2 separate regions of the Homo sapiens genome follow, and region 2 is linked to region 1. Evidence: fine-mapped expression QTL. A gene starts in region 1. The other region holds a variant in brackets. All regions are shown on one strand. Distances are from middle to middle. Region 1 holds the start of AKR1B1 (aldo-keto reductase family 1 member B). Region 2 holds the start of AKR1B10 (aldo-keto reductase family 1 member B10).

Evidence for each region. PIP is the estimated chance that this variant, and not a neighbour inherited with it, causes the effect.
Region 2: its variant is fine-mapped to the expression of AKR1B1 in whole blood (TOPMed, PIP above 0.99).

Annotation. Positions count from the first base shown.
Region 1 is chr7:134,450,503-134,466,313 of GRCh38, reverse strand. It overlaps AKR1B1 (aldo-keto reductase family 1 member B), which reads left to right and starts at 7,214. Exons shown (of 10, transcript NM_001628.4): 1 at 7,214-7,317; 2 at 14,561-14,728; 3 at 15,412-15,528. The coding sequence starts at 7,252. RefSeq lists an enhancer at 2,649-3,149 and a silencer at 7,415-7,604.
Region 2 is chr7:134,521,112-134,536,922 of GRCh38, reverse strand. It overlaps AKR1B10 (aldo-keto reductase family 1 member B10), which reads right to left and starts at 9,356. Exons shown (of 10, transcript NM_020299.5): 1 at 8,946-9,356; 2 at 6,113-6,280; 3 at 4,899-5,015; 4 at 3,842-3,919; 5 at 151-273. The coding sequence starts at 9,011. The variant C/T (reference allele first, on the strand shown) is at 5,247.

The sequences.
Region 1 (15,811 bases):
ATTGTTTTTCTGTCTAGATGAATCTGTCCAATACCAAGAGTGGAGTTTGGAAATCCTCAGCTATCACTCTATTGGAGTATATCTCTACCTTTCAATCTAATAATGTTTGCTTTATGTATCTAGGTGTTTCAGTGTTAGGTGCACATACATTTCAATTGTTATATTCTTTTGCTAAATTGATTCCTTTATTATTACATAATATCTATTTTTCTTTTTAGCTTTTTATTTGAATTCTGTTTTGTCTGATATATCTACTCCTGCTCATTTTTTTGTTTCCTTTTGAGTAGAGTATCTTTTTCAATCACTTTCTATGTGCATCTTTGCAGGTTAAAAGAGTTTCTTGTAGGAAGCATATAGTTGTGTCCTCTTTCTTTTAATTAACTCAGCTAGTCTATATCTCTTAAATGAGAAATTTAATCCATTTACATTCAAGGTTATTATTGATAGTTGAGGACTTACTCCTGTCATTATTAATCATTTTCTGGTTGTTTTGTATGTCCTTTGTTCTTTATTTCCTCCCTTATTATTTATTTTTGTGGTTGCGTGGTTTTATGTAGAGATAGGTTTGACTTCCCTTTTTCCTTTGTGTATTGGCCCTACCAATGAGTTTTATAGTTTTACGTGTTTTCACGATGGTGATTAGGGTCTTTTCACCTCTAGATGTATGACTCCCTTGAGCATTTTTGCAAGGCTGGTCTAGTGGTGATGAATTCCGTTAATTTTTGCTTGCCTGTGAAAGATTTTATTTCTTCTTCATTTCCAAAATACGGATTTGCTGGGTATAATATTTTTGAGTGGTCGTTTTTTCTTTCAGTATTTTGAATATATCACCTCTTTTTCTCCTGGCCTGTAAATTTCTGCTGAGAAATCCACTGTTAGTCTAGTGGGGATTGTGTTATAAGTCATTTGATGCTTTTCTCTTGCTGTTTTTAGAATTATTTCTTTGCCTTTGCCTTTTGACAATTTGACTATAATATGCCTCAGAAGAGGCATATCAACCTGTTTGGGTTGACTCTATTTGTGATTCTTTGAGCTTTCTGAATCAGGATATCAGTCTCTCTCCCAACATTTGGGAAGTTTTCAGGTATTATTTTATTAAATATGCTTTTTTTTTTTGAGATGGAGTTTCACTCTGTTGCCCAGGCAAGTGCAGTAGCATGATCTCAGCTCATTGCAACCTCTACTTCCCAGGTTCAAGTGATTCTCCTGCCTCAGCCTCCCAAGTAGCTGGGATTACGGGTGCCCACCATCATGCCCGGTTAATTTTTGTATTTTTAGTAGAGACAGGGTTTCACTATGTTGGCCAGGCTGGTCTCAAACTCCTGACCTCAAGAAATCTACCTGCCTTGGCCTCCCAAAGTGCTGGGATTACAGGCACGAGCCACTGTGCCTGGACTTATTTCATTAAATAAGTTTTCTATATCATTTCCTTTATACTCTCCTTCTGTAATACCATAATGCAAATATTTGTTTGCTTAATGGTGCTTCATAACTCCTGTATGCCTCCTTTTTTCTTTTTATCTTTTTTGTTGGTTTGCTTGTTTTATTTCAAATGACCTATCTTTTAAGTTCAGAAATTCTTTCTTCTGCTTGATCTCATCTGTCATTGAAGCTCTCAGTTGTATTTTTATTTTATTCATTGAATTCTTTAGCTCTAGGATTTCTGTTTGGTTCTTATCATTGTTGAATTTCTTATTCAAATCATGAATTGTTTTCCTAATTTTGTTGAGTTTTCTATCTTTATTCTTTTTTATTTCATTGAGTTTCTTTAAGATTATTATTTTGAATTCTTTTCCTGGCATTTTGAGTATTTCCTTATTATTGCAATTTGTTACTGGAGAATTACTGTGTTCCTTTGGAAGTATTATGTTTCCTTGCTTCTTCTTGTTTGATGTGTCCCTACACTGATTTCTACACATCTGGTGGAACAGTCACTCCTTCCAATTTCATGGAGTAGGTTTTATATGGAAAGACTTATTCTCATAGATCGGTCTTGGGGAGTAGCTTCAGGGCAGTGCGTTGGCTTTGTTTCTAGGTGCATGCAGTAGTGTAGCATCTGCATAGTTTCTTCAACTATAATCTATCCTTGCAATGTTTATGAGTATCTCGGTGTCCTAGGCTGAGAGATTTTGTGGCAGTGGCAGTGCAGCTTTGCCATGGTGGTCTTGCCAGGCCTTTCTCATGTCTGAGTGCATGTGTGGCCACATTGGGTTGGCCAACTTTGGGTCTGGCTCTCTGTGATTTAGTGCCATGGGGCTGTTTCCCAAGCCTGGGGGTCAGGTGTGTGGCTGCTTTGATGGCCCGCCTGCTTGCCTTCTAAGGATTGCCTATGGGGCTATCTCCCAGGCCCAAGATATGAGTGCATGGCTGCTTGGCTGCCTGGAAGTGTGTTTGCCAGGGCAATCCACAAGGCCATTTCTCAGGTATGGGATGCAGCCACACACCTTCTTGGCTGGCCTGGGTGCATGTCTGCTGGGGGTGGCCAACAGGGCTGTTTCTCAAGCGTTGACTGCACATGCAGGTCCTTTGGGCAGGTCAGCAGCATGTCCATGGTAGGGGTGTGGTCCCATGCTGCTACTGTGTCTTAGGCCCTGGGCATGGGCACACAGCTGCTCTGTGGGCCCAGTGGCATGTCAGCTGTTAGGTGGATCAAGGACCTCTCTCACTTGGGAGAGGGTGTGCAGCAGTTTAGCTGGCTTAAGGGTAGGCTCTCCTCAGACAAGACTTCCAGAGTCTTCCTCCAACTGTAAAACCAGACAGTGTAGGTTGGTTTCACTGCTGTGCAGGACCAGAGTCACAGGCAATTCTGGGCCCAGAATCCATGCAGCTGGAGTTGTGGGATTCAGCCACCTATGGGCTTCACACAGCTACTCAGTCAGCTTCTCAAGTTTCTCCAAGCCCTGGTTGTGAATGCGAGGCAATCCAAGGGTGTGTTCATGGAGGGAGTAGGTGCTACAGGCCTGTTTTTCAGGCCCTGTACATCTGCATATGGCCACTCTGCTGGCCTGGGGGCAGGCATGTCAGCTGTTTGATGGGCTAGGGACCTCTCCTGCTTGAGGGAGGACACACAGCCATTTGGCTGGCTTAAAGGAAGGTTCACCCTGGGTGAGACTGTCAGACTGTTCCTCCAGCTGTATTGCAGATGACAGGGGTTGGTTTCACTGTGGTGCAGGACCAGAGTCATAGCCAATCCTGGGCCCAGTCTTTGTGCAGTTGGCCCACATGTGGGCTTGGTGGAATGAAGATGGAGCCCCAGTGCTGGAGAAGTGCAATGGCTACGGCCCCCAGAGCAAGGCACAGTCCAGAAATGGCTCTAATCTCAAGATGGCGCCATGCTGCAGCAGCTTGGCTCACTAAGGGAAGGGTGTGTACACACCCTGTGCTCCTAATCCGGAGTGATACAGCTATATGGATTCCCAGAAGCTCTTCAAACTGGGCACGGGGCTTGCAAGGACTGTGGGATTATTTTGTAATGAGGACTGGAGTCATTTACAGTGGCAATGGAGACTGGTGAGGTTCTTTTACCTTCTCCCTAAAAGGGGACTTCCCTCCTGTCTCTGGGCTGATGCAATTGTGGCAGGCAAGATGGGGCTACAGAGGCCATGTGCCTCCATGGTACTCTCTTGGGCTTCCAATCACTACAAGTACCCCTTTACTCCCCCATTGCACTTTAATGCTCTTTTTTCATAATTGCAGTTAAATATTAGCGGTTTATTTATTCCCTTGGTCCTTTCTTATGGTGGGGACAAGAACTAGGCATTTCTAGTCAGCCTTCTTCCTGACGTCACTCATTCCAAAATTCTTAGTGTGAGTCACAGTTTAAAAATTTGAAAGCTACTGGTAGTGGTTAAGAGTTTGAGTGCTATAGTCAAATTCCTAGGTTTAAATATTGACCCTAACATTTACTTAATGTGAGATCTTAGCAATTTTTCTCACTTCTCTGCATCTCAGTTTCTTCACGTGTAACATGGATTGATCATAGTATCCATGAAAGGGGTGGTTATGAAGATTAAATGATTTAATGTACATAACTCAATAGATATATAAGCAGCAGCAGCAGCACCTTCATATAACATATGCCAAGTGCTGAACCATAATACAGTGTCCAAACCATAATAAAGACTCAGTAGTGGTTTGTCGTTGTGGAAGAGACTTCTGTTGCTCACCATACCCATTCACTTCTGTTTTCTGGCATACAGGAGGATGACACTTCCCCATCCCATTGAAGATAGGCCTGGCTGGGCTCTACCACCAGATCTGGTTAAAGGATTATAGGTAGAAGTGATGTGTGCCACTTCCAGGACTGAGCAATTGATTGCTCATTTGAGACTCTTAGGTTCTCTTTTGCCTTCCTAAGCCAAACCCTGAAACCTTGGGTTGGGACAGCAGGGAAACAATGTGGTGGGACCTCCATAGCTTGAGTCCCTGAGTGACAATGTGAACAGAGCCTACTGTCACCCTCAGCTCCACCAGCTTGTGTTGGACATGTAGCATATAACCTTTGTTTGTTTATAGAAGCTTTATTGATGTATAATTTACGTACCATATGATTTACCTTTTTAAATATGCAATTGGGTGGTTTTTTTGTATATTCAAACTTGTACCAGATCTCGCAGGGCCTTGAATGCCAGGCTCAAGAGTTTAGGTTTTATCCTATGGGAATTGGACAGTTCATAAGAAGTTGTCTTTTAATTCAAAATGTGTTCATTAAGGAAATAATCTGACAAAGAGTATTCCCCATTTCCTTCTGTCTTCTTCCTAAATTTCCTAAATGTTATAGGTTGTATTTTCCTTCTTAGCATCATTCCATAGCTATATGACTTTGTTTTCTACTTTCACCTTAACATTACCTCATATACATTTTTCTCTGTGTCTTTGTCATCTTTACTTTTGATGGCTACACCTTATCTCTTGCTATTGTTGGATATTTACAGTTTTACTTTAAGTATACAGCATTTTAAAAATACATACGCATATGTGTATATCTGTGTGCAGGCCTGGGACTAAGGGAAGGCAAGTGCCAAGGACATAAATGTAAAAAAGCTCCTACCTTCTGGCATGAAAATTTGTACCTGTGTACCTCATTTGTCTTACCTTGGTCCCAGCCCAGCCCTATACCTAGTGTGTGTGTGTGTGTGTGTGTGTGTGTGTGTGTGTGTGTGTGTGTGTGTTTTCCTTTTAAATTATTTCCTTAGGAAAAATTCCCATGATGGGAGATTACTGGTTCAGAGCATGTTAAGATTCCAATTACTAGAGTGTTTCTCAGGAGGATTCCATTGAAGGTTTTTTTCCCTTTTTCAAACAAAATTTTGATATGTATACTTATCAAAAGATGGGAGATCAAAAATCTTGAGATCAAAAATTTTGGTATGTGTACATTTTACAAAGATTACAGAGGCAATGGGGGATGTTAGGGGGCTATCACAATAGCATGTCCCAACTAGAGTGCTATTGTTGCTATAGAAATTCCACTGATACAACTTTTCATGTCTGCATGGCCCAGCCAAAATATTCTGGGTTTATTTATTTATTTTACAGACAGGGTCTTGCTATGTTGTCCAGGCTGGTCTCTAACTCCTGGGCTCAAGCAGTCATCCCACCTCAGCCTCCTGAGAAGCTGAGACTACAGGTATCACTCCAGCTTTAGACACAGTTATAACTTCATGCAATCAAGCTGTATACTCAATTATTATCAAACCAACAACAAAGCCTCTGATATTGAGTCCATGTCCCTAACAGACGACCCTTCTGTGTGTACCAACCTGGCCACTCAAGGTGTATCATTTTCACAAGAGATTAGCTCTTTGGATTTGGACCCAGGAGGTTCAATTGGCAGAGCAACCTCCAAGTCAAGAGGACTCTCATGGAGGAAGGAACTTGCTGTTTTACACAAAGCAAGTTCCCAGCTTTAGGCTCAAGTTCAAATTCTATTACTTGGGGACAAATGAATTTGCCCAATAGCAACAATTTTTACAAAAGTTACATGGAAAAATATCTGGGCTAGTCTGTTCTGTATAAATTTTTCCAGGAGGGAGCACTTTTAAAGAAAGCACCAAATGGAAAATCACCGGCATGGAGTTTAGAGAGACCTGGTGCTTGAGTCACTACCAGGCAGATGGAGTTCCCAATCTTGCATAATTAGGGGAAAGATCGGAGGGTGATGGAGCAGAAAGAGCAGTTGGGGTGAGGTAGAGTATCATGAAGAGAGGTTGTTGGAAAGAAACCAAAATTGTCTTCAAGGATCTTCAAGTGACTTTTCTTAGGCTATCTTGGAAAAATGTGTGTTTCTACCTGCCAATTAGGGTGATCAATTTACTATTTTGTACCTTCTAATTTGAAATACTGGAAGCTACAATATTAGAGTCAACTTTTTCTTCTGTGGTTTTCTGTCTGTTCACTTTTCTTCCTCTAGAGAGTTTTGATAAGTTACTGTACTGGAACTTACTGCTTTGATAGAGTCTCACTTTCCAAAGACTGATGAAATTTGTCTTACTGATTCTGAATGGACAGCCTTACTTTCCAAATTCTTCTGAGAGTTCTGGATCAAGCCCATCAAGGCTTTCTAACCTCAAGAACATCAAAGGATGCTGGCTTTTGGTGGAAGGCTTGCTGAACCACACCTAGTATGCACAGACACAGCTAACACCTAGAGTGGGGTGCAAAGAGAGATCTAGAAGGCTACAAAAAGTCTGGGCAAACCCATATTTTGTGAAGGTGCTTTGCAAAAGGATTGCAAGCCATTTTTCTGGCATGCACCTTTGTCTAAGAACAAAGTGCGGTAAACTATATGTGTAGTCAGTATGATTCACATAGATTAAGGACAAGGTATTCGTCAGATTCCCAAAGAGCATCAAACTGGGGTTGGACAACAAAGGCATTCTTCTGGGCTCTTAATGAAACCAAAACTTATTTCTAGTCTATGTATTTATGGGATGCCTGTTATTTTCGCTAAAGCATTCGCTTTCCCACCAGATACAGCAGCTGAGGAACTCCTTTCTGCCACGCGGGGCGCGGGCGAGCGTTGGGGGCGGAAAGAATCCGCTGCCACTAGGACCAGGCGGAAGAAGCATCCCCGCCGACCCTTGGGGAAGGCCGCCGCGGCACCCCCAGCGCAACCAATCAGAAGGCTCCTTCGCGCAGCGGCGCGCCAACCGCAGGCGCCCTTTCTGCCGACCTCACGGGCTATTTAAAGGTACGCGCCGCGGCCAAGGCCGCACCGTACTGGGCGGGGGTCTGGGGAGCGCAGCAGCCATGGCAAGCCGTCTCCTGCTCAACAACGGCGCCAAGATGCCCATCCTGGGGTTGGGTACCTGGAAGGTAGGTGCTCGTGGGGGCGCGGGCCCGGGGCTCGCCTCACACTCTCCGCGCGGCCTGTATTGGCGAGGGACCCCGAGTGACCCTGAGCAGCTCGCCCCGCGGACGCCCGGCGTGCTGGGAGCCACGCGCGGGCTTGCAGGGTCCCCAGCGGGCTGGGGTCGGCCTTGCAGAGACCGGGGGCCTTGGCTCCCCGGGTTGGCCCTGGGCGTCAGGGCAGCATCCTGCGAGTGGGGTTTGGGAGCAGCTCACGGGAGCCCCCGCCCTACCGCGGGCAACCCTTGATGGGCGGCCCACCAGTCCGCATTTTGGGTCCTAGCGGGCGCCCCAAGCGGCACAACGCGAGAGGGAGGCGGGGAAAGTGGGCTTCACAGACCGGTGGACCTCGGGCGCAGACAGGGACGTGGAGCCGTCGGCAAGGTGTGGGAGCGCAGACCCAGCCTCCTTTCCCTCGAGGCACCTGTAGCCCGGTTGCCTCACTTGTAAATAGTTGGTCTCAATCGTTTCGATTCTTGCCCTCCCTGAGGAATAAGCATCTCAAGCCGGTAGAGGGCAGAGAATTAGGTGGCGCGAGTTTGCCCGGACCCAGCTGTTAACAAGGCGCAGTGCGGAGCTCCTCGGCCAGGCGCCGCCTCGGGGTGCCCTGGGTCTGGAACTCGGGAGAAAAATCTGGGCACCCCGTAGCTAGTTGATAATTCAGGAGGCGCCAAGGTTAGCATTTTCCCTGTAAAACCTCAACACCACACAGCGTCCCCGAGAAGTGCCTAGCCGGATGAGAATGACAATAGGACATGAAACATCATAGGATATGAAAAATGATAATATGATATGAAAAACCAAAAATAATAGCCTGAGCCTGATTATCTGAAAATTGAGCAACAAAGGTGGTGGTATGGGAGCTGAGGCAAAACCTAGAATTTTTAACCTTCTAAGTATTGCATATTATATTCCACAGCCATAACCTGGGTTTCTCAGTTTCTGTTTTTGTTGTTTGCTTGTTTGTTTGTGACAGGGTCTCGTTGCCCAAGCTGGGGTGCAGTGGCACAATCATGGTTCATTGCAGCCTGGAACTCCTGGGCTCAAGTGATCCTCCTGCCTCAGCACTGCGGGTAGCTGGGACTACAGGCGCTCACCACCACACCTGGCTAATCTTTTTTCTTCCCCGCAGAGACAGTCTCCGCTTGTTGCTTAGGGTGATCTCCAATTCCTGGGCTCAAAGCGCTCCTCCCACCTCGCCTCCCAAAGCTACAGGTGTGAACCATCTGGCAGGCCCACGTCCCAGGTTTTTCTCTTAAAATTTGAATATGGGCCTGGGCGTTGGATATTTACACACAGACAAGGGAAGAAAACAACAGAAAGAACTGAGTGAACTGTGAGATGTTTGAAATAGGACAGAAGAGTTTACATGTACCCTAAAACCTGCTGTTGAAAATTAGTAAATATAAGGTAAGAAAAAGGTCATTTGCATCAGGGAGAGTGTTTCTTGGCCAGAATGATCAGGGTACGTGATTTGTTTCCTCCAAAAACTCCAGTGGTGTCTCTAAGGTTGTAATTGAATTACAACCATGACACCAAGCTAATTTCCATCTGTTGCATGTTATGCTCTTGGAATGGATGCAGAAGGATGCTTTCTTGGCAATAGCAAATACTTTCTAAGCATGATGCAACGCACAGATATATACATGTAACTGGAATAAAAATTACTTAACAGTACTTAACCTATGTAGGCTGCATTTCAATATTTTTTTCTATTCCATTTTTCCAAAAATTATTGTCATACCTCCAGAAGCTAGTTTTGTGACCCATCATTTGAAAATCACTACTCTAGGGTAAATAAGGAGTAAAAGTTTATTTTTTTTTTTTTGAGACAGGGGCTCAGTGTCACCCAGGCTGGAGTGCAGTGGCATGATCATGATTCACTGTAGCCTTAACCTCTTGGGCTCAAGTGGTCCTCATACCTCAGCCTCCCAAGTAGCTGGGACCACAGGTGTGTGCCACCACACTCGGGTAGTTTGTTTTTAATTTTTTGTAGAGACAGGTTTCCCTATGTTGTCCAGGCTGAGGAGTAAAAGTTTATGAAAGAGGGTTTCAGATTATTCACTTGAGCACTCAATGCCCCAAAAAGCTATGTATTTGTTTAAGATAACATCACATCATAACATCTGTACATTTAGGTTATGCATTCCAGTAGACAGAGTTCATTGAGAAATTGGATAATGTCTGCTTCATTCATTACTATTTCTAGCACTTCTCACAGTGCCTGGCAAATATAGGAGTAGGTATCCAAAAGTTATGTGTTGAATTCATATGAAGAAGTAAAACGACTTTAGAGATAGCTGTATGGTGAAAACGCCCACTTGTATTCCTGTGGATGAGGAGATCAGGTTGGTGTAGAATTGTACGGTGGGGGCAGCGGGGAATGGTGGGTCAAAGTAATGGTATAAGGATGGACTTGGAATCAACTTCCTTTTTTTTTTTAATGACTTAAAACCTTTCCCTGGGGCCGGGCGCGGTGGCTCACACCTGTAACCCCAGCACTTTGGGAGGCAGAGGCGGGCAGATCATGAGGTCAGAAGATAGAGACCGTCCTGGCTAACATGGTGAAACCCCGTCTCTACTAAAAATACAAAAAATTAGCCCGGCATCGTGGCACGCACCTGTAGTCCCAGCTACTTGGGAGGCTGAGGCAGGAAAATCGCTTGAACCCCAGATGTGGAGGTTGCAGTGAGCCGAGGTCCCGCCACTGCACTCCAGCCTGGGCGATGGAGCAAGACTCCATCTAAAAAAACAACCAAACAAAAAAACCTTTCCCTTGTATGTGTGTATGTATTCTTTCACAGATGCTCGACAGAAGATGTGATCCTTTGCCTGTCTTTGTGACAGCTGGAGGAGGCCCTGCAGGCAGGTGCAGTTCCTTATTCTCCTGGGTCTTCCCATGCCGTAGCGGCTGTGTTGTACCTTTCAGACCCTCAGCAGGGCTCTGGTAGTCTCTACTCTTGAAGGTCCTCAAACTCCATTCTCTTCTCAGGTGAGGGTTTCAGGCAGATGGGGAGACCATCTCTGCCCCAGACCCATGTGGCTTGGACAGGGTTTCTTTCTGGCAGTCTTGCCTTCTACATTGGATAGTAAACAATTACACCTGTAATCCCAGCACTTTGGAAGGCCAAGGCGGGTGGATCACCTGAGGTCAGGAGTTCGAGACCAGCTGGCCAACATGGTGAAACCCCCTCTCTACTAAAAATACAAAAATTAGCCCGGCATGGTGGTGGGTGCCTGTAATCCCAGCTGCTTGGGAGGCTGAGGCAGGAGAATCACTTGAATCCAGAAGGTAGAGGTTGCCATGATCTGAGATTGTGCCACTGCACTCCAGCCTAGGCGACAAGAGCAAAAAAAAACTCGGTCTCAGAAACAACAACAACAACAAAAACCCATCACAGCATTGTAAAGCCAGGAAGCTTTTAAAACAGAGATGATGTCTGGTGCCCACCAGTGTCTTGTTACTGATAGTGTTTTTAATCTAGTTGAAAAATTGTTGGAGGTAAAAGTCATTGTAAGTCTCCTATGTATGCTCACAGAATACTCCTAGGGCTGAAGGTACAACTATGTTTCTCCATCTTTTGCCATGATCACTACCTCCCTCCCACCTAGGAGCCTTGTGAGACTTTTTTTTCCCCTAATTTGCCCCAAAATAAAATTGTAATATCAGAGATAATATTGTACTTCTGCTTATGGCCAGTAGCCTTCTAGAGGGTCACAAGCTGTTCTATAAGCTGAGGGGGGTTTTTTTGCCCCAGAGAACTAATTTTTGTCTCTTTGGGGACAATAGCACCCACTTTAAGAATGCATGAGGTAAAAGAAAATGTGCCAGGAAAGACTTGCTCCACCTTCCCCAAGTGGGGTAAGCTTGTGATGGCCCAAGATCCTTGGATGGGGTGAGGGTTGAGGCGCTGTGGGCATGGAGGTAACACAGGAGCCAGATTTACTGTTCACTTCCCTGGTGTCTCTAAAGCCCCCATCTCTTCCTCTTCAAGACCAAAGACATTTAAATAAGCCCTGCCCCTACAGGGTCAGTCCTGGTCCATGCACATCTCAACTAGTTGGAAACAGCAGTGTCTTAGAATTTGGGACAAATTGATTAAAACAGAACAGGAGGAAGTTAATTTCTGCTGCCAAACCTGATTCTGAGTGATCGTTTCCTGTTCCTTGCTCCAGGATTATCAGCACAGCATTCTCATGCTTCCTACTCAGGACCGTTTCTTTACCCAAAGTGAAGTTTCCTTTGCCCCCTCCCCTTATCCTTTGATTTCAGTAGTAACACCTGCTAACTAGAGAACATTTCAAAAATGAAGAGTTCCCTGTTCCCAGAGATCCCCGTGGTTAATATTGCAAAATATCCAATCTCTGAGATACTTTGGTTTTACCATAAACACTGTCCTGTGACCGTCTTCCTGTTTAGCACTGTGGCTTGCTTTTTGACTTGCAGAGGGAAGAGAGGGAGGGGTATCTTGAAGTAACTAGCAAGACCTGTAAGCAAAAGGGAAGAAGACTAGGTTTTAAAAGGAGTGTTGTATCTGTGTAGGAGGGAGACACTGATTTTAGTTATCAGTGTCTCAGAGTTGGTATTAGCCAGCCGGTGTTATCAAAGGAGGAACTAGGACCGCTGTCTTGAAGGAGGTGGTGGAGGACTCAAGGGCAGAGGCTTCTCACTGCCATCACTTGGTGCCATCAGCCCAGAGCATTTCAAGTCACTGCCCAACGTAGAGCTTTGCAGAGCCAGAAGTTCTGGGAGGAATGGGCATGCATGGTTTTGCCCATCAAGGGCACACAGATTAGTGGCAGGATCGGGTTAGAAACATGTAGGATTTGTATGATTGAGCTGTAATTGGAGTGTTTCATATACTGCATTTCTACAGCTCTCATCAGTAATGGCTGTGCCTGGATGCCACCCAGCATGTTTTCATAGTTTACCTTCTTTTTAGAAGTCAATCTGGACCCCTCCTTCTGTTTGCATTTTCTCTTTGTTGACATGGAATGGGGAGATGTTGTCATCCTGTGTTGGCATTCCCAAGTTTAGTGAATGGTTTCTCACCATAGCTTAAGTTGGCTGCTTCATTTTTCATAAGGCAAATTAGTTTCTCTCAGGGAAGGGCTGTACATTGAGATCATTAACATAGAATGTGGTTGTGGATCCTCGTACATTTTCATTGCAGAGGTGACTTTTTCCCTCCAGCACCTTTGATCAGCCTCCCAGCACACATGTCTCCAGCGAATGGCACATATCCAAGGAATGATCAGCAGCTTCTTCGTGACCTCTTGCAGTCATTGCTGTCTTTTACTTTTCTAGAAAAACCTCTCACAACTTTTTTTTCATGTCGTGCCAACGCAAGCTTGATTATCCTAGTCTGTGCTCTTTTGGTTCCAAAGAACTGAAAAACCACTTTAATCTTAAGCAGGAAAAAAAAAAGTGTGTTTGGGGTGGGGATTGATTGACTTCCCCAAACAACAGCCGCTGACATTAGGTGTTTGAGATTCAGGGTTGTAAATGTTGTCACCAGGATTTGGCCTCCCTCCACTTTCCTGCAGCAGCTCCAGGCTGACATTCTCCCAGCTCAGTGACCCCAGCAGAACCGGGGCTGGACTCAGGGGTTCCAATTCAAGTGCAAAGATTGAGTCTTATGGCCTGGATTGAGTCATGTTCCTGTCCCCGCACCAGTTGCATGGCAGGCAGTGCGTGGCTAGGCTGAGCCTGCGGAGTGTGCCCTCAGCAGCTCCTCAGAGAAAAATCAATCAAGGCGCCATCAAGCCTGGAGAAAGTTCAGTGTGTCCTGGGCAGTTTCCTGCCTGGGCCCCAGTTGTTCTTTCTGGGGTAGGGATGTCCTCTGCTCTCCCTGCTGTCATCAGTGGTGGTTGTGCCCGGACACCACTCAGGGCCTGTGGTAAGGCATTCTTTCTGGAAATTGAGATTCTCTGTTCCTTCAACCGTGCAGAGTGGGGAAGGCTGCAAGAGCAGCTTCTGAGGTCCTCCAGTCAAATAAGAGGTCGCCAGGTCCTCTGAGGGTCGTCCCCTCTTAACCCACACCTTCGATGAGCATCCCCACCCTGCCTCGCTGCTCCCTCTGAGGTGGAGAGTGAGCTCCATGCTAACAGGCTCTGGTAACGGGCTTGTTCAACTGGGCCCCTTTCTTCCCCAAAGCCTGTTGAAAATAGCTGATGTCAAAACACAGATGTCTGCAGCTGCTATGGCCCTGGGGGGTTTTTCTTTTCATTTGTTTCTACCCCAGCTCTCCAAAGGAATGTGCTCTGTTCATTCAACAGCCCGCTGCACATGTTTATTGCTCAGCTCTGTGATCATAGCAGGATAGTGAAAGTTGGGGGATACGTGTCCATGCAGCCTACCTGGGTGCCAGTGAAGCGCGATGCCATGTAGGCACTTCCTCCTCCTCTTCAGTAGCCAGGCTCCCCACAGCTGTTCTGGTTACTCAGATGGTCAGGTGGCTTGGCCATGGACACCCATTCAGTCATTTTGCCAGGTCAGCCACTAACCATTTGGTGATCTTCCATGATCCACATTCCCCCTCGTTTCCCTTTAACTTATTTCTCTCTGCTGATACCTCTGAGGGGCCATCTCCCGTGTCTCCACCCCTTGAAGCAGATCCTCATACAGTGAGAATTGACACATGGGCCTTTGAATAAACATCAGTGATGTGCTTAACTTCATGATAATCTCCCAGAACCGCTTGAAAACAAGCGACTGCCGGTATCAGAAGCCATGCATGAAAAGAGAGCGTAAGGGGCAGGCATTCACTGGCTGAACTGGGGAGCCACATGGGAATTGGGGTCCATAGGACATCTATTTTTGAAATATTTTGAGATATTTGAAGGAAATGGTTTCCCTTACTATCTCAGCATTCAGAGTGTGGGGAAATGTTTTTAATACAGTGGTTTGCAAATCAGTGGATGTGAAGAAGCAAGAAAATGAGATGGCTTCAGCATATCTTTTAAAAGTGATCTCACCTACACTTAAGTGGCTGTCAGATTCTCCTACAGGGCAATGCTGTGTGGCCTTTCACTTCCATCCCCCGCGTCTGAGGCTGATAGTCCAGAATGCTGCTGAGGAAGTGCACGTGGTCTGTCTTTGCTGAACAAAGTGGCAGGCTGGTCAGCAGGTATCGGTGGCTGCCACTGCCCCTCCTCCTTGCTGTGCAGACTCTGCATTCTGCGGGGCTCACGTTCTTTCTCCTTTCAGTCCCCTCCAGGGCAGGTGACTGAGGCCGTGAAGGTGGCCATTGACGTCGGGTACCGCCACATCGACTGTGCCCATGTGTACCAGAATGAGAATGAGGTGGGGGTGGCCATTCAGGAGAAGCTCAGGGAGCAGGTGGTGAAGCGTGAGGAGCTCTTCATCGTCAGCAAGGTATCGTTCCGCGGTGGGGCTGGAAGGGGCTCTCGGTCCCATCATCTGTTGGTGCATCAGCCCAAAGCCAAGTCCACACTCAATACAGCTACACTTTTCACTGATGGGCGATTCTTCCCGGGGAAACGTATCACCCACGGCCATACAGGGCTCCAGAGCTCGCCCATCCTTGGCTCTCTGTTGAATGGTCATTCCATCTGGGCCCATTGCTTAGAGTCCCGTGCTGATGAGGCTGAGGTTGTGGATTGGCCCTCCCTTTCCAGGGAGTCGCTTTCAAGGATGGAACTTGGTTCCCATCTGCAAACTGAATCTCCAGTGCTAGCCACTGTCTTTGACCTGAGATACTGATGCACAAAGGACATGAGGCAGGAGGATGGGGCTGGCTCCACAAACACCAGCCCGGGGGGAAAGTTTCGAGAGTTCTTGCTTAGGCCTAGGGCAGGCTAGCCAATCTGTCCATTCCATTTTGTGTCCTCTGGTCCTTGTAAGAGGTCTCTGTGACCTGGTCATCCTGCCTGCCTTTGGAAAGTTAGGATCCAGTACGCAGTGGAAATGCCCTCACAACCATTCACAGCATCATGGTAAAGCAAATGGGTTTTGGGGAGAGGAGACTGCTCTGTCTTTCCAGCCAGGAAGCTGCCTTGTGGCTGGCAATGATGACATGTGCCCTCTCGCTGGCTTAGCTGTGGTGCACGTACCATGAGAAGGGCCTGGTGAAAGGAGCCTGCCAGAAGACACTCAGCGACCTGAAGCTGGACTACCTGGACCTCTACCTTATTCACTGGCCGACTGGCTTTAAGGTATGGGATGCCTGGTGCAGACCAGGTCCCTTGGGGCTCAGGTGCAACCTGTGGTGTGTTTTGAGCTCCCTTAGCAGATTACGTGTGGGTGACTTTCTGTTCTTGCTGCTCAAGGTATAGCCAGTGGACCATCAGCACTGGCATCACCTGGGAGCGTCTTAGAAATCACAGTCTCGGGCCCCACGCAGGCCATTTGAATCCGCACCAGCAGTGACTCATACGCACACTTCTTCAAAGTTTGAGGAGCACTGCTCTTTGCCAGTTGGTAGATGTGCAATTTAAA
Region 2 (15,811 bases), 71 kb before region 1:
ATCACCCGTGAGATCAGCCTCACACCTCCCCAAAGTGTCCTGATCACTGACCCCTGAGATGAGACTCAGGGCATAGCATTGAACATTCCTCCCGCAATGTTTAAGAAGTAATAGGGCAGGACCCTTACCCTTAAACTGAATAGAATTTACCTGGTTAGTCACTGGTTTATATTTCAGTCCAGGTTTGTTCAAGAGCTTCTCGATCTGGAAGTGGCTGAAATTGGAGACCCCAAGGGCTTTCACCAGCCCCTCATCCACCAGCTCCTCCATGGCCTATCATAGAAAGGAATACCTTATGGGCAGCTCTAGAGGGACTACAGGGACCCTGGCTTGCCTTAGTCCTCCCTGGGGCAGAAATTGCTAAAGGATCCACCGTAACAGGGTTAGCCGAAGCATTCACAGGAAATTTTAGTCCAGGGCCTGGGTGCCCATCAGTGACTGGTTCCAGCCCTACTGCCCCTCCCCAGCGCAAGAAAAACTAGGAGTAACAGGTAAAGATTTTATGTTCTTGCCACTCTCACCTTACACGTGAAGAAACACATAAAAAATTAAACTTCCTGTACACAGGGGAAATATGAAAGTTTTGTAATGCAAAAAAATAAAAAGTAAATAAAAATCAACATTTGTAAGCTTATGAGATGATTTAATTTTTAATGAATCCAAATGATAGCAGGGAGCTGCTGTTGTGTGTGTGCATTGCACACCCAAACCTGGGCAAGCTGTGTTAGTCAGGAAGAGGCTGCAGCATACGGAGAAGCCTCACTTGTGGGTCCTGAGTCCCTCTCTCCCACACTAAGCATGCTTTGGTTTGCAGGAAGGTCATGCATTCAGATTACACCCTGATAGGGGCACCCGGCCATGGAGTTGTGTGGGACTGAAGCCTGACCCACTGTTTGCATATCCAGCCATGCTTCCTGGTACAGAAACTGCATGGACACGCAAGGAAGGGAATCTTTGTATAATTTTTAGCCTATATTGGGCATTTTCCAAACTTGCCCAAAGATACCATACATGTTAGCAGCAGCCTCCAGTGCAATATGTATTTAGTAGCCATCTATTACATGTTCCAGATCCTGCCCAGAAGTTGTCAGGATGTAAATGTATACAATGTGCTCCCTTTTTCTGGGATTCTTATAGTCCAATTAAAGTGCTAGAGTTCCCTTCTATGGAGCCATCAATCATGACACTGAGGCTGCCTCAGATAACATCACAGCGGCATAGACAGAGTCAGAAAGGGCAGAGAAAGAAGAGATACATACAGCCCGCAGTTGTCAGGGGAGTCCTTCAGGTAGAGTATAAGCTGGGCCTCAAAAGAAAAAAAAAAAAAAAAAAAAAAAGACAGAAAAGAGGGAAAAAACATGAGCATATGACACAGGAAGGCAGGAGCAAAGCTCAGAGGCAGGGATAAGCACGACATGTTCAGGGAACACTTTATCCAGCCCTTCTCAACTTTGGCTGCAATTTGGAATCACCAGGGAGCTTTAAAAAATACTGGCTGGATGCAGTGGCTCATGACTGTAATCTCAGCACTTTGGGAGGTGACAGGAGGATTGGAACAGGGGTTTTGGGCCTAGGTTTGAGTAACCTAGGGTAAGTTTTTTAACTCTTGTAGGCCTTAGCTTTCTCTTCTTAAAAAAAGTCTTATAATACCTACTAATAATATATATGTTTCTGATATATATTACCAGAGGCTGAGACAGGAGGATTGCTTGAGGCCAGGTGTTGGAGACCATCCTGGGCAACATAGCAAGACCCTGTCTCTACAAAAAGAAATTTTTTTAATTAGCTGGATGTGGCGGCATGTGCCTTTGATTCCAGCTACTTGGGAGGATTGCTTCAGCCCAGGAGTCCGAGGCTGCACTAAACTATGATGATGCCATTGTACTCCAGCCTGGGCAACAGAGAGAGACTCTCTCTAAATTAAAAAAAAAAATTACCAGTGCCTGGATTTCACCCCCCAGAGTTTCTTACAGATTTTCTCTGAGTTGTAGCCTAGACGTTGGGATTTTTAAACTCCTCAGGTGATTCTAATGCATAGCCACGTTGAGAACCACTAGGATATATGATGTTATCCAAATTGGGCAGTAGAATTTAGAAGCTGTGAAATCATTAGGTTTCCCAAAATTTCAGATGGGGCAATTAGATAATTTAAAAGTTTTTGTGCACATAGGTCAGGTTAGTTTTCCTGTATTAGAACTTGACTTCTTTATACATTTTTCCTCCTCTCTGCTTCAATGTGGTCAGTGAGGTTTCTACTGAACTGGTTGTGGGTCTACATAAACATCCAACGCTTACATATTCAAGCCTGCTCATTTCAAATCAGAGCCTCTGATCTTGATCACTGCTATCTTTTCATGCCTTTCAAATGTTTTATTTAGCAGTCGTTCTTGTATTCATTCAAAAAACAGCACTGCGAGAAGCAGGCTACATTGACATACTTGCCATACTTCATGGCATCATAAGAGTTAAGATAAAAAAATCTTATCATATGTAATGCAAATAGCCAGGTGTGGTGGCTCACACCTGTAATCTGAGCACTTTGGGAGGCCAAGACAGGTGGATCCCTTGAGGTCAGGACTTCGAGACCAGACTGGCCAACATGGTGAAACCCCATCTCTACTAAAAATACAAAAATTAGCCAGGCGTGGTGGCATGCACCTCTAGTCCCAGCGACTCAGGAGGCTGAGGCAGGAGAATGGCTTTTACTTGGTAGAGGGACGTTGCAGTGAGCCAAGATTGTGCCACTGCACTCCAGCCTGGGTGACAGAGTGAGAGTGTCTAAGACAATAAAAACAACAAAAAGCTGTGCTTGTGGATTAATGCTTTTGAACAAACAATACACAGAAAAAGCTACATTTCATTGAATCATGTCAATTATAAGCATTTCAGAAAGTTGAAACATAATATATTTTTGCTTGTAAAACACAATACAAACTCGCAACTACATGCACACCTACACAGACAGCTACCAAAATAACACGATTAACTCTTGGAGTCATAAGCCACTGTTCATTTATAACTTATTCCTCCACTTCATTCTCTACTAGCATTTGCAAAAGGGTATAAATAATAAAAAATGACCAGAGAAAATGTTCATCCCTTCATTCATTTTGAATGTGAATGACGTGAAACAGGTCATGGTTAGATCTGAGAAGCAGAGCACTCAGGCTCCCTGATTTCTGGATGTGTCTTCACTGCCTGCCAAGCACCATGCTGATGGCTTTGGTGGTTGGACTTGTGATTCAGATGAGTCTGGGTCTAATCCCAGCTCTGCCACACACATTGTGACAAGACCTGGGCAAGTCATCAAACAATCTAGGTTTCAAATGTCATTATTTATAAATGGGGATGTTAACCCTGTCTCCTAGGGTTAAATGGGCTTTATGACTAATGTTCCTGGCATGTAAACCATCTTAATCTTTATCACACACTGGAAGATATATATTGGTAGTATGTATTATACAACTTCTTTTTAAGAAGAGAAAACTGAGCCCTACATGAGTTACAAAACTGACCCTAGGTTACTCAGCTGCTATGAGCACACCCAGGCCCAAACCTCCTGTTCCAAATGCCTCGCCCTGGTTTGAGAACAGCATGTGTATTCCCCAAAGTGGGGTACATTGTATTTCCAGTCTTATTTGAAGACTATTAGCCTTGAAATATAAATAGTATCAGATGTACCCAAAAGCCAAAGGTGATGAGGAAGATATTAGAAGAGCTAGAAAATCACAATGATGAAATTAGAAAGCATCAGGCACATGGCCTCATTCATATCCATGCGAATCTCATGGATAACTGAAGATTTCTCTCCCAGCACACTTAGAGGAAGCTGGGAACCTACCTCCCAGGCATCCAAGAACGTTGCTTTTCCACCGATGGCATTACCTTTATCATCTTTGGGGAAAAGGTCATCCCCAGACTGTGAACACAGAATGAAAAGTTTACTGGAATCTGCATCAGGACACTTGGTTCTGTTCAACAAGGTTTCAGGATCCTGACTCTTGCTAAATACCACATCTGCATACCACTTTTTCAAGTTCTGGAGTACATACTTTAGGAATGTGAGTTTAATTAAAATCTCTGTATCTACTGTAGCATACTAATATTTTAGAAACGACTGGCTTGACTTTAAGATTTGCTGCTAGTACATTCCAGAAGTTCATTATCACCATGGACATTAACCTCATACACCTAGATCCCATATACAACCAAGGGCAAACTTTCATTTCAATATTACTGGATAAGGATTAGATATCCAAGCTGTGGTTTTCTGGAGAAGATATTGGCCAACTTCTATCCTTGCAGCCTCTAGAAGAGGCGTGGAATTAGGGGTGGCAGGCCATCATCACTCCAGTTGGTCAGGAGGGGAGAGAGCTGGAAATTTGTCTCTCCCACCCCTCAGGAGCAGGTAAGAGCAGAGCCCCAGGCAATGGGTGCCTGGATCACTACTGGCTTCCTTCCAGCATCACCATACTTGGGCTTTTCTCCAAGATGCCACTCCCAGGTGTACTTTGCTTAATAAGATAATTATGCCCTGGAATATAGTTATGCAAGAGTAACCCAAGAGATTTCCTGGGAGGGCAACCCTGGGGCGTGGAATCAAGACAAAGGTGATATGGCAGTTGCAACTTGTCTGGGCTGCCAGAAATCATGTCTTCTCTCAGACATAACTGCAAGAAAACCCAGGCATGTGGCCACCTCAGCAGCACACATGGCCTCAACCTCCCTTCCAGGCCAGTGTGTTTCTTCTCCAAGGTCTCTTCCTGACCACCTGCCATTCCCAATTATGAAATGCAAGGCCTCCTGCCCCAGTCCACACCACCCCACAGCCCTGGTGCAGCTACTATTTTCTGGCACCTGCTCAGAAACTAGAGGCTGAGAAAGAGAGTGTCTTAAACCTTGAATCCCTGTGGCCAGTGAATAAGATAGACGTCCAGATAGCTCAGCTTCAGGTCCTTGAGGGTCTTCTCAAAGGCTTTCCTCACAAGGGGTCTCTCAAAGAAAGTGGGCCACAACTGCAAAGAGTGTAGCAATGAGCTATTAATACTGGGAAAAGGAAGGGCCACATTGTACTCATTGTCCCTGCTTTTTGATTTGCATCCTCATCTAACCCACCACAAGCCATTTGTAACAAAGCTGATTAAGATCCACGACACAGTGTGGAACATCACCAGGGCTCAGCACCTCAATGACATGTCTTAAGTGTTAAAAGCAATTGACTTTTTCAACTGTCCTAGTACTCTATA[C/T]GTGTCTCAGATCATTGAAGTAAATGTGGCCACAGATTTGAAATTTGTTTACCTGTCTCAGTCTCTTCCTCAGCTGTAGGCTCTCTGAGAGCAGGAATTGTGTGTAGCTTTTAAATGTCAAGCATTCTTAGGCCTTTGGGAGCAGATGGTCCTTTATCTGACCTATCTGATAGGTCCCTTATCAAGCCTATAAGGCCCCAAGTGATAATTTTACAAAGGCTTTATCCAGACTTGGCTGCTACACAGTGAGGTCTATTTGTCCTACCAGATGTATGCATTTTCCAAGTACCTAGAACTAGTGTTATTTTTTTTCAGCAAGTTATGTATAATATAGATCCAGTGATTCTCAGCCCTCTCACACCCAACATCTTCTTCTTTTTTATAACATTGTATCCCTCACCTTTTACTAGAATGAATAAAGAAATTCATATGTGACAATAGAAAAATGCCCCTACCATTTTCTAAAATTCCCCCTGGCTGAGAGTCTCAGGGGCACAGTCACTGAGATCACAGTGCTGAAAGGGAGGCTTCAGATCAAGACCCGCCTGCACCCTTGGCCTCTGATTGCCTCTGGGCAGATGGTAGATCCCTCTGATGGGGAACAGGGAGGCCCAGGGCAGTGCAGGGTTCCATGGAACCAAGCCCACTATGGGAAAACCAACCTACAGGCAGGTGGGGCAGCCACGACATGTTCAAATATCAATAATGGCTTGGAGTATGGATAGTGTTGTATTCACGGATGTTATCAAGGCAGAGATGAAAAGGGGTACATGTAGAAAAGGCTGACAGAGTTCTTGCTGCCAACCCGACCCAGATACTTCTGCCTGCCTTGAAGTGAAGGCCTCCCACCAAATGCACCATTGCACCTTGCTGACGATGAACAGGTCCTCCCGCTTCACAGCCTTCTCTTGGATCTTCTCTTGGATGGCTTCCCCCACTTCATGTTCATTCTGATAGACATAGGCACAGTCAATGTGCCGATATCCTGCATCAATGGCCACCTTCACTGCTTCTTTCACTTTGCCAAGAGGAGACTGAAAGGCAAAAGAAAAGCTCATCACATATGTGTTTTTTTTAAGAGATGGGGCCCTGCCGTGTTGCCCAGGCTGGCCTCACACTCCCAGGTTCAAGCAACCCTCCCACCTCCCGAGTAGCTGGAATTACACCACTCTCAGCAACCATCATATTCTCTTATCCCCAGGCCACCTTCAACAGGCTGCCCCACAAGGCCCAGTTTCTCCAAACCAAGGCCTCACTGGGGTCTCCTTTGCCAGGGGATCTCTGGGAGGATACACACTTTACAAAACTTTTCAAAAGAAAAGAAGGAAAGTGAATTATTTTATGATTATGTCCTTATGTCCTATCCTAGCTAAAAGTCAGTTCCCTTTTCATCCAGGTTAGTCCTGAAATGTCTTCAGGTGTGTGGGGGTGCAGACCGCTCCACTACAACTTTCTGAAGACCCAGATGAAAGCTTGACTCTAAATAACCCCAAGGGATTTTCAGACAATTTCCCCAAATGGTGATAAGGATCTGGATAATGGTCATTACACCATCAATCTGGATTCGATCACTTACTGGGTGTGTGGGTCTAAGCAGGTGATTCAATCTCTGTAAACCTTGTATGCAAAATGGAAAAAAAAATAGCACCAGCCTCATGAGGCCTTTGTGGTGATGAGATGCTGCAATGAATATTAAGCTTTTTGCACATTACCTGACACACAGTAAGGTTCAGTAGAGGCCATCATTATACAATGATCGTTTCAGAAAAAAAAGAGAAATAGAAAACCTTATAGGAATAGAGTTTGTTTTCCACTCCTGTAAAAAGAAAGAGAGAGGGAGGGGAATGACAGAGAGGGAGAGAAAGAAGGGAAGGAAAGAAAAGAAAAGAAAGAAAAAAAGAAAAGAAGGGAAATAGAATTATCACATTTTGTTCTAACCTAGCCAAGCCAATGATGGGGGCAAAAAAGCACTTAAAACTTGATCTCTCACAAAATGGTCTTTTAAACCTCTTCAATTGTGAGATAACAAACATTGAACAGTACACAAAACAGAGATGCACAGCTACCCTACCACCTGGACAAGAAACGAGCTGCTGCCAGGCACCCAGAAGCAGCCCTGTGCCCCCAACCGCTACGCTACACCCTTCTTCACCTCCACTGCTAAGTTCATAATCCTTTAGTCTATCATCCCCACGTGTTGAAGACAGCTCCCTTCATAATTCTTTCATTCAATTCCAAAATTATGAAACTGTCTGGTAAACTCACCCAGGGTGAGTAGATTCCCTGGAGATCTGGAAGTGATTATTTATTCTGTTTATACAGGATTGAAGGTCTGATTTTGGGCAAATCTTGCTATTCAAGCAAGAGACGCTCTGCATGAATCAAGCTGGAAGTGATCTGTTCCTCCAGATACACCAAGAATGTATCCTGAGGATGACCCAGTGCTGCAGCAGAGGGTCCTAACCTCTAGCTTGGGACAGAAGAGAAGAAAAATCAGGGTGCACAGAAGGAAAGAGAGCCAGAGGCAGAAGTCTCAGCAGGGACATTAGCCATGAGGGACAGGAGAGAAGAGGAACTCCAAAGACTGCTTCTCATCACTAGTTAGGGTAGTGCTATCATGGATGGAAATGGCAAAGAAGGCAGAGGGAGGTGGTGATGGAACAACTTGAAACTTAGCCTAACAGAGGCTCGGGAACCTGCCTCACTGAGTCCTGGATGTGCCTTACCACATTTTGCCAGCTGTCGTTAACACAGCCGGGTGGTGCTCACGACTCCCAGCCCAGGCTCTCTGCAGCCCCAGCATGTTGCAGATTTCAATGTGTACAGGAACCACGTAGGGATCTTGTTAAAGTGCAGATGCCCATTAGGTAGCCTGGGTTGGAGCCTGAGACTCTGCATTTTGTTTCTCTCTGTCTCTCTTTCTTTCTCTCTCTCTCTTTCTCTCTTTCTTGCTTTCTTGGATCTCACTCTGTTGCCCAGACTGGAGTGCAGTGGCACAATCACTGCTCATTGCAGCCTTGACCCCTCAGGCTCAACACTCAATCTCCACCTCAGCCTCCCAAGTGGCTGGGACTACAGGTGCGTGCCACCATGCCCAGAAAATTTATTTATTTTTTGTAGAAATGGATTCTTGCCATGTTGCCCAGGCTGGTCTCCAACTCCTGGGCTCAAGCAACCCTCCCGTCTGGATTTCCCAAAGTGCTGGGATTACAGGGATAAGCCACCACACCTGGCCAGTTTGCATTTCTAGCAAGTTTCCAGGTCATAGGGATGCTGCTAGCCCAAGTCTCACACCGTGATCTGCAAAGGGGTGCCAAGGACTTCGGGCTCTGCATCCTCTCCTCAACCACCCAGCCCACAACAAACCCACAGCCAAGACTTGGGGGAAACGTTGAGCCCAATTAAGTGTCCTAGAACCAGAGAGAGAAACTGCCCTGGAAAACAGTTTTAAGTCCAACAGCTGCTTGAAATTTGATACTTGCTAGAGAAGCTCTCATCACTGCTGGGAAAGCCAGCCTTGGAGCTTTGCAGCCTGAATCAGCTCTGAGAAAAGAAAGCAACCTAAGTCCTGGCTCCAGGGCTGAATCTTACCTCTCCAACCCCTGCCCGACCTCCAGGCTTTCCTGGCTGAATGCAGAAAGAGAAAACACCCAAACGCCCCTCCAGAGAAGAAGGGTGTGCAAAGATTTGCATATTTACCTTCCAAGTGCCCAGGCCCACAATGGGCATCTTGGCTTTGGTACTGAGCTCCACAAACGTGGCCATGGTTGGTGCAGAAATGATTCTGAGTGAGCAGGTAGAAGTCTCACGTCCTGCTCTCTGTTGCTGTTTTTGAGACAGTCTTGCACTGTTGCCAAGGCTAGAGTGCAGTGGTGCGATCTCAGCTCACTACAACCTCTGTCTCCTGGGTTCAAGCAATTCTCCTGCCTCAGCCTCCCGAGTAGCTGGGATTACAGGCGCCCACCGTGACTCCCAGCTAATTTTTATATTGTTAGTAGAGACAGGCTGGTCTCAAACTCCTGAGCTCAGGTGATCCGCCCACCTCGGCCTTCCAAAGTGCTGGGATTACAGGTGTGAGCTACTGTGCCCGGCCACAGGCTGCTTAAGAAGGCTGCTGCTATCTACAGTGGGAGGAGTTGGAGCCTGGCCACAGTAGCTTCCCTGCCATAACCAAACAGGAAATCCATTCCAGGCTTTTGTGAGATTGAGGATTCTGTGAATGAATTATTAAACATGGCAACCTTGTGCAAAGTTCTCTCTTAGGTGACAGTATCATTGGAGTTTCTGCTTGTTCAGGATGAGTCAACAAATTCAACACAGCCAAAAGTTGGAAGGTAGGGAGGGAGACAGCAAGGAAGAAAAGAAGAGTTGGAGGAGGGAGGGAAAGAAGTCTGGCCAACATAGTGAAACCCTGCCTCTACTAAAAATACAAAAATTAGCCGGGCGTGGGGGCACGTATCTGCAATCCCAGCTACTTGGGAGGCTGAGAAAGGAGAATCACTTGAACCTGGGAGGCGGAGGTTGCAATGAGCCTAGATCATGCCACTGCACTCCAGCCTGGGCGACAGACAGTGAGACCCTGTCTCAAAAAAAAGAAAGAAAGAAGGGAAGGCAGGAAGGAAGAAAGGAAAGAAGGAAGGAAGGAAGGAAGGAAGGAAGGAGGGAGGGAGGGAGGGAGGGAGGAAGGAAAGAAAGAAGGAAGGAGAGAAAGAAAGCAAAGCAAAGAAGGAAGAAAAAACAAGGGCTTGCTTTCCCTGTGATGGTTTCCTCTGTGAAATAGAGTCTAGGGAGGAGAGGTGAGAAGCAGCGTTTCAATTTTAAAAGTTGCAATTGCAGGTTCAGTGCAGAGATGGTCAAATCCCGACCTGATTGGAGTCAGCTGTAACTAGTTGGTAGTCAGCAATCTAGGGAACATGATATAGGCCTGTGCCATGCTGTGACACGCCATGACAGGCCAGGGCCACGTCACAGCATCTGTTTCAGCCTGCCGGTAGTGGGTTTTTCTGTCTTTTACATGTTCTTGTTGATGAGTTGGCTTTGGTTGAATCTTGAAATGGAATTGAATCTCTAGGCTGTGGCTTATGACAGCTCATAGAAGGCAATTGGCATGATATTTTGCAACTATGAGTGAAAAATCTTATACTTCATTGATGTTTGTTAAATTATCTACTTCAACATTAATAATAATGCATGGGCCGGGCATGGTGTCTCACACCTGTAATCCCAGCACTTTGGGAGGCCGAGGCAGGTAGATCACTTGAGCTTAGGGGTTTGAGACCAGCCTGGCCAACATGGTGAAACCCTGTCTCTGCTAAAAATCCAAAAATTAGCGAGGCATGATGGCACGTACCTATAGTCCCCGCTGCTTGGGAGGCCTGAGAATCCCTTGAACCTGGGAGGTGGAGAATGCAGTGAGCCAAGATGGTGCCACTGCACTATAGCCTGGGCGACAGAGACAGACTCTGTCCCAAAAATAAATAATTAAATACATGCATTCCTCATAATCTGGTGGCCACAAAGTCTCCTGGATATGCACTTGCGGCACTTTATTTTCCCAGTGTATACTGGATGACATGCAGTGCTAGTATTGTTGAAATAGTAAATCCTTAGTGACTGTCAACCTAAATAACAGAGAGAGGGTCCCTACAAGAAAAATATTTCTCTGGGAATAGAGCACTGCAATGGGAATATGCATGCCACAGTAAACTATGTGTATATTTGGGGAAATAAAGGAAGACAAAACTTTTCAAGGAAAAAATGAGGATTATCTAATTGCTTTGAAATAATTAGCCTTGGCTCCAAAGATCAATCATGAAAGTGGTGTTAGTCTGAGGTTGGACACGCAGTTGTTCAGAGGTCCTTGCAGAGTATGTTTTGTGTTCAGTTGCAATGGCCTTTGCTCAAGGTTGTGGTTTTCACCGTCTTTCATGGTACTTTTGGTTTTCAGGTGTACAACCATTAGAACCCTCTTTTCATGGTCTTCCCAGCTGTATTTGTCAGAGTCTTCTGTTTGTTTTTTAACATTAGTGACTCCATTTTGATTCTGACCATTTTCATGTGATGCACAGAATAAAGAAATGTGTATTGTTCATAATAACATTCCTTCCAGAACCACTTAGCTATGAATCAGTGAGAAGGGATATCTTTTTTAGATAATTGAGATTAAGAAGGTATATTGATTAGCTGTTTTCGTGTAACAAACAAACTGGTTATTACAGCAACCATTTATTTGCTTGTGATTTTGTGGGTTGGCAATTTGGGCAGGAATCAGCTGATAAGCCGGTCTCAGAACCACGTGGTGTCTGTCAGCTGGGTTTTCTCACCTCTGTGGGCTTCACTGGGGTGGACTGGGATGTCAGGGAAGGCAGGGACCCTTTTTATGTGTTTTTCATTTTCCATGAGGCTAACTTGGGCTTGTTCATAGGTAGCAGCATTGTAGGAGGCCTACCCTTGGAATGTGTGCAGTGTCACTTCTGTCACCTTCTATTGATCAAAGCAAGTCTCAAGGCCAGGACGGGGCCAAGGAGTAGGGAAATAGATTTCACCTCTTGAGGGGATTTGTTACACAGAATTATGGCTATTCTTAATCAACCCCAGAAGTTTTCATAAGAGTTTTGATTAGCTACTTTCTAGCTTCATGAATTTACCAATCTATTCCTGGTTTTGTACCCTTAAGAAACTCTCATTTTTTAAATCTGATGAATATATGTGCATAAGAAGTTTTACTTTGTTAAAATTAAGTACATACAAAATTGAGACAAAATTATTTTTAGAAGGAAAATGAACGAGTAGTGCCGCTTTTCATTCTCATCCATTTCTCTAAGAAACAGAGGAAGCAGCAACTAATATATCTGAAACAGGGAGGAAAAAGAACAATTCCAAGAATTGTGGGAGTGCAGAGAAGTTTCTGGGCAGAACAGTGTGAGCCAAGGGGTGGAAGCGACTAAGATACATTGGAAGAACGGGAGGAAGCCAGTGTGGGGACGCTCAGAGAGTAGACTTACAGGGTGCCCAGCAGAGTTAAAGCTAGACTGATATGCAGGTACCAGAGGGTCAGGAGCTGCAAAGCTGTGATCATGGAGTTGGATTTACCATGAAGGTAACAAAACTTGACCTTCAGTTGCCTTCACTTGCATGAGCACCATCTTAGGCTTTGTACCTAACATTGAATTCTTAATTTTGTATTCTTTAAAAGAAAACCCCGATCGTACAACTTCAGGATCACAAAATCTGAATCCCCTGTGCATGTTAACATTTTTTATTTTATTTGAGAGCACCAAAGTTTTGTTTTTTAATTTTTCAAAAATCTTTTTATTATGAAATATTTTGAAAATATGCAAAACTACACGTCCCCACCTTCTCTCCTTGTGCTGTATTTGTTAGCTGGGTGTGGTGGCTCACACCACCTGTAATCCCAGCTCTTTGGGAGGCTGAGGCAGGAGGACTACTTGAGGCCAGAAGCAACATAGCGAGACCCTGTCTCTATGAAAAATACAAGAAACAATTAGCTGGGCATGGTGACACATGCCCGTAGTCTCAGCCACTCAGGAGGCTGAGGCCAGATGGTTGCTTGAGCCCGGGAGTCTGGATGACATAGTAAGACACTGTCTCAAAAAAAAAAAAAAAAGAAAAGAAAGGAAAAAAAAAGCCAAAAAACAAAACAAAACAAACAAACAAAAAATCACTTTCTCTCTATAGTTTCCCGCCCTCTGGATTCTGCTGATTATTGCATTCCCAGAAATGTATTTATCATGTCACTCTATCCCCCAAATATCTTGGCAACACTAATAAGACCTAGAGGCTTGATAAAATCCAGATCCAATTCTTGTTTTGTTTTGTTTTTTGGCTACTTCCTATACATTGTATTCTTCTATTCCGGTGGAATGACTGGCTGCCTCTTTATTTGTATTTATTTATTTGTATTATTTACAGTAGTCATTGATGATCATTACTTAAATCCATTATTTCATAACATTACAAAACAGTGAAATACTAATTATACCATTCTTTCTTCATGTATTAGCTGGCATACTTCTTTAAGGAGAAATTTCTCCTAATCAATTATTTGGCTACCCTGAGGTATAGTTTGAATAGGAACACTGAATAATGATTGATTCATTCTTTTATTTTAGTTTTTAAAAGGAGGTTTCCAAGCACCCTCCAAGGTGACAGATTAGTTGTCATTTAGTGTTCTTTGAATTCATGAATTTAAATATATTCAATGTTATAATCTATTGCTATTCTTATTGATGCCCAAATTATCCTCTTTGCCACTGAGAGCACTTCAAATTGGCTTTTGCATTCTTTTCATGTAATCTTTATAGCCTTTGGTAACTTCATTGCTTTCCTGTTCCAGACCTACATTTATCCAAGGAGATTTCCTTTTAGTGGAAATTGATATTTAGAAACCACAATTAGGGAACTAGAATCATTCTTTGCAATTGAATTGAATCTTGCTTCCAGGCCTTTTCAGTAGAAAGAGGTAGGAAATACCTTTTAAAAAACCTACCATGTATTTTTAGTAATACAAGAAACAATTAGCTGGGCAAGGTGGTGCATGCCTGTAATCCCAGCTACTCAGGAGGCTGAGGCAGGAGAATCACTTGAACCTGGGAGGCGGAGGTTGCAGTGAGCGGAGATTGCACCATTGCACTCGTGCCTGGGCAATAAGAGTGAAACTCCATCTCAAAAAAAAAACAAAAACCAAAACAAAACAAAAAAAAACACGACTTCAAATGGACATTTCTGATTCAAGTTAAGAACTTCAAGGCTTAATCTCACCTGTCTTATGTTTCTTCATTCTCTCACACTGAATATCTCACTTCCCAAAGATACAAACGTAATTGCTAATTTGCTTGATTTCACAATGTACATGCAATAGTACTAAAAATACAACACAGCCTACACACTGTAATTACTAAAAACAATTTTAAAGTATTGAAAACAGTTTAAGAGCCATTAGGCTTATTTATTCTGTGAACCCCGAAAATTTGAGACAGGTCTCAGTTAATTTAGAAAGTTTATTTTGCCAAGGTTGAGGACACACGCCTGCGACACAGCCTTAGGAGGTCATGATGACGTGTGCCCAAGATAGTCAGAGCACAGCCTGGTTTTATACATTTTAGGGAGTCATGAGACATCAATTAACATATGTAAGATGAACATTGGTTCCATCCAGAAAAGCTGGACAACTCGAAGCAGGGAGGGGGCTTCCAGATCATAGATAAAGAGACAAATGGCTGCATTCTTTTGAGTTTCTGATTAGCCTCTCCAAAAGAGGCAATCACATATGCATTTATCTCAGTGAGCAGAGGGGTGACTTTGTTTGTTTGTTTGAGATGAAGTTTCGCTCTTGTTGCTCAAGCTGGAGTGCAATGGTGCAATCTCAGCTTCCTGCAACCTCCGCCTCCTGGGTTCAAGCAATTCTCCTGCCTCAGCATCCCAAGTAGCTGGGATTACAGGCATGTGCCACCAAGCCTGGCTAATTTTTTGTATTTAGTAGAGACGGGGTTTCACCCTGTTGGTCAGGCTGGTCTCGAACTCCTGACCTCAGGTAATCCATCCGCCTTGGCCTCCCAAAGTGCTGGGATTACAGATGTGAGCCACCGCACCGGGCCCAGAGGGGTGACTTTGAATAGAATGGGAGGCAGGTTTGTCTTAGCAGTTCCCAGCTTGACATTTCCCTTTAGTTTAGTGATTTCAGGGGCCTAAGGTATGTATTTTTTTACAATTCTATTTTGGTTTTAAATTCCAGGGGTTCTTTTTCAAGTGTTTTGTTTTAGAATTATGTTCCAAAGCCAAATATGCATAGTTTCAAATTCAAATATACAAATCAGGTTATTTTCAGAGCAGTCTGCTTTTTACCCCTGTCAGAATACTGAATACAAAAAGGCAATGGAGAAATTTTTTCTTAAGTATTGAAGAAAAATAACTTTAAACTCAGAATTTTCTATCCAGCCAAACTGCCATTTAAATGGGAGAATATAATAATATTCATACACATGAAATCCTCAGAAAATGTATCTTACAATGACTCACGGTCATTAAAATGTTTATGCTTTATATCCTGTGATCATAAGTTTCTGGGGGTTAGAAAAATTTTCTTCTGAATCAAGTTATCATTAAAATTAGTATTTATGCAACAATAATTTTTAAGCATAAATTCTTAAATTTTTGATAAACCATTAAACATCTATTATAAAATTCCACTGGAACTGTATCTCTATGTAACATAAATGGAGATTTTTTAAAAAATTAATTTATATCCACCTGTGCTGTAAGAGTTAATTTCAGCAGGCCTGGATTAGCCTGATACATTTTATTAAAATAAATAAAGGCACCTCCCTGGCATGAGATATGAACCATAATGATTAACAGTGTTTCTTTACGACTTTGGGTCTGGGGAGTTGCGTGGCAGTTTATATCAGTTTTGTTGTTGATAACATTGAAATTGGTGATGTGCACCTCAGTATAAACTCTTACAGGGCTCTGTCCTTCTTTCTGCTTGTGTAGCAAGAAAACTCTGATGTAGCCAGAAAGATTAGATTCCACTTTTGACCCTTTAG